Homo sapiens: one gene and its partner. The protein of the gene in region 2 purifies or fractionates together with the protein of the main gene of each other region. This does not show direct contact. Each region holds a gene or a part of one and is shown on either strand. Other genes may lie near its edges.

Region 1 (3,654 bases), on a different chromosome or scaffold from region 2:
GAGGAGTAGAAGAAGGAGGACAAGAGGGAGTAGGAGAGGAGTAAGAGGAGACATGGAGGAGAAGGAGGAGAAGATGGAGGAGGAGGAGAGGGAGAAGAAGAGTGAAAGGAAGAAGAAGAAAGAACAAGAACAACAATGTGAATTTCCATCTGGGCTGAGAGGGAATCAGATTCTGTAATCAGTTCTTGATATCTGCCATGGGCACAGGGAGGGAATGGTTGAGGCAGTCTTGTGGTGAATTTTCTACCCTCTGTTTACTTCCTAATTTATTCATTAATAATTTAATATGTATCTACAAACACCCCACCCAAATCTGTGATTTCCCTCAGAAGACAGAGCAGGCTGTAATGACTCCTAGAGGTCCCTGGCCTGAGAGTCTGACCTCTCCACACTATGAGACTCGACAGCCTGGCTACCAATCTTTCCTTCCCCACACATTCACCATCGGTCTCATCTTAGGAAGCAGAAAAGGCAGATCCCAGGGTTAAATCAAGACTCCTTTATTGGTGGTTATGCCGCATTCTCTCTACGTTCTTCACAAAGGACCAGCTGATTGAAGCAGGTGGTGCAGAGGGTATTTCTAAAGGTGGTTATTTAAGCTTGACAGATGCAATGAAAAAGACAAATCTGTGCTCAGCCTCAGTATGGCGGCAGTCTTCCTCTGAAGATATTTCTCCTTTCCTTGAAAATAGAAGCAAAGATCTGAGTTTAATGAATAAGTAGGCATTGACTCAAAGAGGAAGGTGAATTAAAAATGACTTTGTATTGGTTTTCCAGACTTAGTCGGAAGCAGCTGAGCTGAGAGGAATCAGACGCCCCCACCCCCACATCCCTGCCTAGCTCATAGGAGCAAGGAGATCAATGAACAATGAGCTCCTCAATCTCACCTCTATGCTAAGGGGAAGGGGACCTGCAAAGTGCCAGTTCTGCTGTGATGGACAGAAGTCAGAGGCTGGACGCTGTTCCTAGTCCTAGCCACAGACTGAACGCCACTGTGGGTGTTTTTTAATATCTACCCTGTTAAGATGGTGCCCAGAGTTCCAAACCCCCTCCTTTCCCTCTCCTCTATTCCAGGAAGATGATTTTCATTACCAAGGCAAAATTCAGGAAGGGCCCGCTAATTTAGTGTCATCCATAAGCCACATGCATTGTAAGGACAGACATTGCTAGAACCACCAGGGTTTTCCACCCCAAAGGGAGGAGGGATGGGGTTTTGTCTACACATCTGATGAAAGGGCTTCTCTTTTTTTATTTAGATTCCAGAAGTCACAGAGCAGTGAGGTCAGTTGATCCATGCGGGAGATTTAGAGACCATTTCTACAGGCTGGAGAACATCTTTCAAGCTTAAATAACCACCTTTAGAAATACCCTCTGCACCACCTGCTTCAATCAGCTGGTCCTTTGTGAAGAATGTAGAGAGAGGAAAAGACTAGAAGAAAAGGAGGGATAGGCCAGGTACAGTGACTCACGCCTGTAATCCCAGCACTTTGGGAGGCCGAGTTGGATGGATCACCTGAGGTCAGGAGTTTGAGACCAGCCTGGCCAACATGGTGAAACCCCGTCTCTACTAAAAATACAAAAAAAAAAAAAAAAAAATTGCTGGGCATGGTGGCACACCCCTGTAATCCCAGCTACTCAGGAGGCTGAGGTGGGAGAATTTCTTGAACCCAGGAGGCAGAGGCTGCAGTGAGCTGAGATTGCACCACTGCACTCCAGCCTGGGCGACAGAGTGAGACCCCGTCTCAAAAAAAATAAATAAATAAAATAAAGAAAAAGAAAAAAATAAAGAAAGAAGAAAGAAAAAAGAAAAAAAGAAAAGAGGGATAAAGTTGGTTCTGTGGAGGTACTTGATGACCAGCGGGCTGAGGTGGGGCAGGAGGCCCAAATGGTGAAGGAAGAGAAATAAACCCCATTTTTCCCTTGGTCAGCTACTCAGTGATGGGGGCAATGGATGCACACCATGGTGTCTTGGCTTCTGGGTTATCCTTCCTTTCCTTGCTTCCTTCCCTCCTTCCCTTTCTTCCCTCCCTCCCTCCCTTCCTTCCTTCCTCCCTCCCTTCCTTCCCTTCCTTTCCCTTCCCTTTTCTTCCTTCTTTCCTTCCTCCCTTCCTTCCTTATTTCCTTCCTCTTTTCCTTCCCTCCCTCCCTTCCCTCCTCCCTTCCTCCATTCCTTCCCTCCTCCCTTTCCTACTTTCTCCCTTCCTCCTTCCCTCCCTCCCTCCTCCCTCACTTCCTCCCTCCCTCCTCCCTCCTTTCCTCTCTTCCTTCCTCCCTTCCTTCTTTCCTTCCTCCCTCCCTTCCTTCTTTCCCTCTCTCCTTCCTTTCTTCTCTCCTTCCTTCCTTTCCTCCCTCCTTTCTTCTTTCCTCCCTCTCTCTACCTCCTTTCTTTCCTCTTTCTTCCTTCCCTCCCTCCTTCCTTCCCTCCTTCCTTCCTTTCCCCTCCGTTCTTTCTTCCCTCCCTTCCTCCTTCCTTCCCTCCCTCCCTCCTTTCTTCCCTTCCTCTCTCTTTTCCTCCCTCTCTCTTTCCTTCCTTCCTTCATCTTTCTTCCTTCTTTCCTTCCTTTCGTCCATCTTTCTCTTTTTCTTTCTTAGACAAGGTCTCACTCTGTTCCCCAGGCTGGGGTACAGTGGTGTAATCATAGCTCACTGCAACTCCTGAGTTCAAGGGATCCTCTGACCTCAGCCTCCTGAGTAGCTGGGACTACAGATGTGTGCTATCACACCCAACTAATTTTTTTTTTTTTTGTAGAGACAGGGTCTTGCTACATTGCCCAGGGTGGTCTCAAACTCCTGGCCTCAACTGATCCTCCTGCCTTGGCCTCCCAAAGCACTAGGATTACAGGTGTGAGTCACCACAGCTGGTCAGTTATCCCCTTTTCTGGGTTGTTTTTTCATACCATGCTCCACTTTGAGAAATTCCACTTTTCTAATCATCAACAGCCAAAGCCTCCCAGACTTGAAACTTGGAATGATACCTTCCTGGGTCTGAAAAAGTTTGCCAATCCCCCTCTGCTCTCCTGCTTCTGGGGGAAATCCCAATTTCTTTCATCCTTCTAATCTGGGGAGTTGTTCCAGTCTTCCCCAACTCCACCTTATCTTTGACAACAGGAGCCCGCATTGCTGGGAACCTCAGCTAATCAGACATGCTGGAAAAGCAACAGATCTCGCCTTCACATCAGCGACGCTAATCAGACACGCTTGAAAAAGCAGATCTCGCCTTCGCATCAGTGACACACCAGTTGTGCACCTGTCTCACCTCTGCATCCGTGAAATGACCACTGTTGGTCCCTGCTCTCACCTCAGCATCAGCAATACACCCAGGTGTGGTCTTGGTCGTAGTTGTAAGAAGTTGCACACCACACAAGGTTCTCCTTTGATCCTTCGTTAGTGCAGTTAAAATAATTCTTGTTTTTATAGTTGAACGGAAAGTGACAAGGAAAGCCAGGGACCAACGCGGAAATTCCTAGGAAGCAGAAGGGGATAAAACAAAGGTTACTCCTCAGGCTTCACACTGTCGTAGAGGCGTGGGCTTCAGGCCCACCCTAGATTTCAAATTGGGGCTGAGTGTGGTGGTTCGCGCCTTTAATCCCAGCATTTAATCGCGCGCATTTAATCCCAGCTCAGTTGTGAGGCTGAGCCAGGAGGATCATGTGA
Region 2 (3,654 bases):
AATCAAATTAGCTAGCCTTTGAATAAATACAAGGAACTGATATTACAGTAGGAAGAAAACTAAAGAAACTACTCAATGATGGCCTGGGGTTACTGTATAATCAAAAGGATCATTTTTATACAGTCATTAGGCATCTCTAAGTTTGACACAAGTTTTAAATACCAGAATATTACCAATTACTAATTAACTGTAAACAATTACCCATTCACATAATATAAAACATGTTAATTCTCCGGGTCTAGAGAATTCTCTAGAAAAAGTATAATTAGATACACCTATCCATAGATTCAACTAGAGAAGCAAGTAAATGTTTTTATTATCCTTTTGTTAGAGATGAAGCAACTCAAGTACAGGGATGTTAAGAAACAGGCCAAAGTCCAAGTTATTAAGTGGCAGAGTGAGAACTTGAACCCAGGCGGTTCCACTCAAGGGGAATATGGTCTTAAATTTAAGCAGAAAAAATTCTCCCAGATTTAAATAGAAGCTTGCACCCCTTTGTACATAAAAGAGTAAAAGCTTTGACCTTCCTCTCCACTTCTCTCTCACTCATGGAAGGAATGATTCATCTGCAAAAAGTAATCATGTGTGGCTAAGCCACTCAATTAGATAGTATAGGCATTCTCTCTCTTAAACAGCTCTGTCTTCAAGACATACATAACCACCTTCTACCATTAGGAAAGTGAGCCATCCCTGCCATTTGAGAAGTCAGCAGGGTAGGAGGAGTATGGAGTTAGGTTGTCCAGTTTGTGGCAGCACATATAGGTTGTTTTATTTCTACCGGCTTCATTAATAATAAAGCTGCCTGCAATGCTCTCAAAAAGATAATCGCTTAGCTCACTTATTTACTTCACTCAAGTTTTTTTCAAATACCACAGCCTCTTCCATGCCCTTTCTCATATCATAGGCAATCTCCTTTATTTTGTTCAGAGCCGTTTGCCCTAACACTTATTACCTAAAGATCTAATTCCCTATAGGAACGTGCGCTCTATGAAGGGCAGGGACTATGTCTACCTTGTTTATCCAAATCTGTACTGCATTAAAGATGTTAATTGTTAAGTAACTCCTGCAATACTTCTGGAGAACATCAGGAAAGGGATAGCTACCTGACATAGCAGATATGTAATGTTGATTTTTTTCTTTTTGGAAAAAGAGGCTGAAAAAAACATATATTACGAAGGAGAAAAGTATACAAACTGCTTTAAAGCTTTGAAAAACCTGATGATACTCACCTAACGGCATTTCAGAATATGACTCTAAATACCTCTTAGTTTCTCTGAATTTATAAAGAAGTACACTTAAAAACAGCTTTTTGAAAATTGACCTGTTTATATTTAGAAGAGCTTCTGTGCAAAAATTTGTAGTTCATTTTAGCATCTTGAAACAAAGCATCGACCAGTATGTTTCCAAATGAGCATCTCTCAGGTAACATGCAATGCATTTCAGAGGAGAATTAACATATGCTTAGATTACAGATTAGATTATACTGACTAAAGCTTATAAATCTCAAAATGTTTCCATCCACACATTTCTAAATTTAGTACACTCAGGTTTCCTGAAGTGAAACATTCCCACATGAACATAAAATATTCATGAATGTAAATCAGTATTCTAAATTCTAAACATCTTTAATATATGATTATAACACTGCTAAAAAGTAAAGAATATGAATAAATCTGAATAGGATATTAATAAATCTACTTAAATTAATAAAAAACTAAATCCTTAATTACAATTTTACAAAGGATAGAATTCCTACTAGCTGAACAAGCTTCAGAAGTCCTTAAAATGTCCAATAGCTGGAACATGGTATATAATATGACTATTTTAGAAAGAGGCAATCAAAAACCTGCAGAAAACATGAGAACAGACTACTTTCTAAAAAACTAAGAAAATGATCTTTCCATATTTGGATAGACTTGATACTTTAAATGGAGCAGAAGGTTAAATAGAACATTTTAAAAAGGTTATCTGTGCTATAATGTACTCCTTCTATGTTAATAACCAAACCATTCCAGAATAACTAGGTTTCTGGTGTTTGTAAAATTCTCCAGAGAGGTTTCTGAAATGATATATATGCATTTTAAAACTTTGAACCTATATTATACAAAGAAGAAAATTCTTCTCATAATGTTGAACCTTTTTTTCATTCTTATTCTTTGGTGAATACAAAAAAGTGCAGTTATGCCCTGTTAATGTATTAACCTTTCATCTATTTCTACTGTTTAAATTGAACTCCTTCTGCCTTTTAATTCCTTCATCTTTTAACTTGAATTTCTTTATTCTGTTCTATGGCTCATTTTTGAATATTCAAATTTCATCCACTACTAGGACAAATTCTCTTCACATACATCTCAATCACCAACCACTTAAAGATTATCTTTACACAGTAGTTAGGAAGACATTAAAAATGTATTAATATTCAGGTTATAAGCAAAATTTTCTACATGTAAAATCCAACAATAATTATTAAATACTTACGATCTATAGCAATTTTTTCAGTTCCATCTAAAGGATTAATAATTGCTGGAACAAGCTCTCCAAAAGACAAATGATCTATTCTATGAGAAAAATTGTAAGCTAAAAGGCAAAAAATAAAAACAACTTAGCAGAGAAATTATATTATTCAAAATTACTTGGTACAGACTGGTTTACATCCTTATCTATTCTCAAATGAAAATGTTTAAAATCTTCAAGGATAATAATACAGTATTTTAAGCCACAATACTTTGAGAAAAATAAATGTAAATATATGCGAATTAAATGTATAAAATAAATTCTGACAAAATGCTATATCTCAAATTTAATAATTATATACAATTTAACGTCTAGAAAATATTAATATATAATGAAAGCCAAAAATATACATCTTTCCTTTTCCAAATCATCATATAGTTAACAGGACGGTATTGTTAGAATTGGAATGATGGCCATGTGGCCATATAATAAAACTGATCAGATATATTTTTAATACACTATTGCTAAATGTGACCAAACTAATTTTCTGTGGAATCCATTACTTGTTTTGTCCTCTAAAGCAGACTTTAAGAACTTAAGTCTTAAGACAATCATGATACCAAACTAACCTGAATACTTTATACATGTCTATACATCCATATTTCAATTTGCAAATTGAAATAAACTGCAAATATATTATTTTCTTTATCCCTAAAAATTAGCAGAAATGTGTACAAAGTTATAGAAAGTACACTAGGCTTTCCTCCCTAACCTCAGCAACTCAGAGCCATGACCAAATACAAATGCAGATTAAAGTAAATCAATTTAAAAATTTATTTTTTCCTTTGGATGAATATGTTTTCAAAACAGCTCACTTTCAACTACACTATATCTGCACTTTTAAAAATAATATTTTTTCAAGTACATCTTTACTGAAAAAAAGTCAGAATCTGCTTACATTCATGGTTGACAAGTGCTGCCAAATGTGCATGACCACGAGGATGTGGAATTGCCCTGAAAGGAGAAAAAACAATTATTAAAGTAGTACCATTTATATGTATAATTAATTAAAATCAGAAACTGGATCTTCCCTAAGTTATATAATTTTTCTTAGTACAAAATAACATAAGAATGCATTTGGCCTATTGACTGAGCAGACAAGTCTACTCATCTCAGCAATGCAATAAACTGCTGGAGGTT

Evidence for each region. The genes of interacting proteins can lie anywhere in the genome.
Region 1: the proteins of ERGIC2 (region 2) and ELSPBP1 purify together in Homo sapiens (co-immunoprecipitation; one large-scale study listed by IntAct). This does not show direct contact.

Annotation. Positions count from the first base shown.
Region 1 is NC_000019.10:48,021,979-48,025,632, reverse strand, and holds the end of ELSPBP1 (epididymal sperm-binding protein 1 precursor), read right to left. Parts: intron 3,464-3,654; coding exon 3,306-3,463; 3' UTR 3,299-3,305; exon of another isoform or gene 3,257-3,298; intron 682-3,256; 3' UTR 479-681; downstream 1-478.
Region 2 is NC_000012.12:29,346,601-29,350,254, forward strand, and holds part of ERGIC2 (endoplasmic reticulum-Golgi intermediate compartment protein 2), read right to left. Parts: intron 3,469-3,654; coding exon 3,413-3,468; intron 2,578-3,412; coding exon 2,479-2,577; intron 1-2,478. UniProt on the Homo sapiens protein: Possible role in transport between endoplasmic reticulum and Golgi.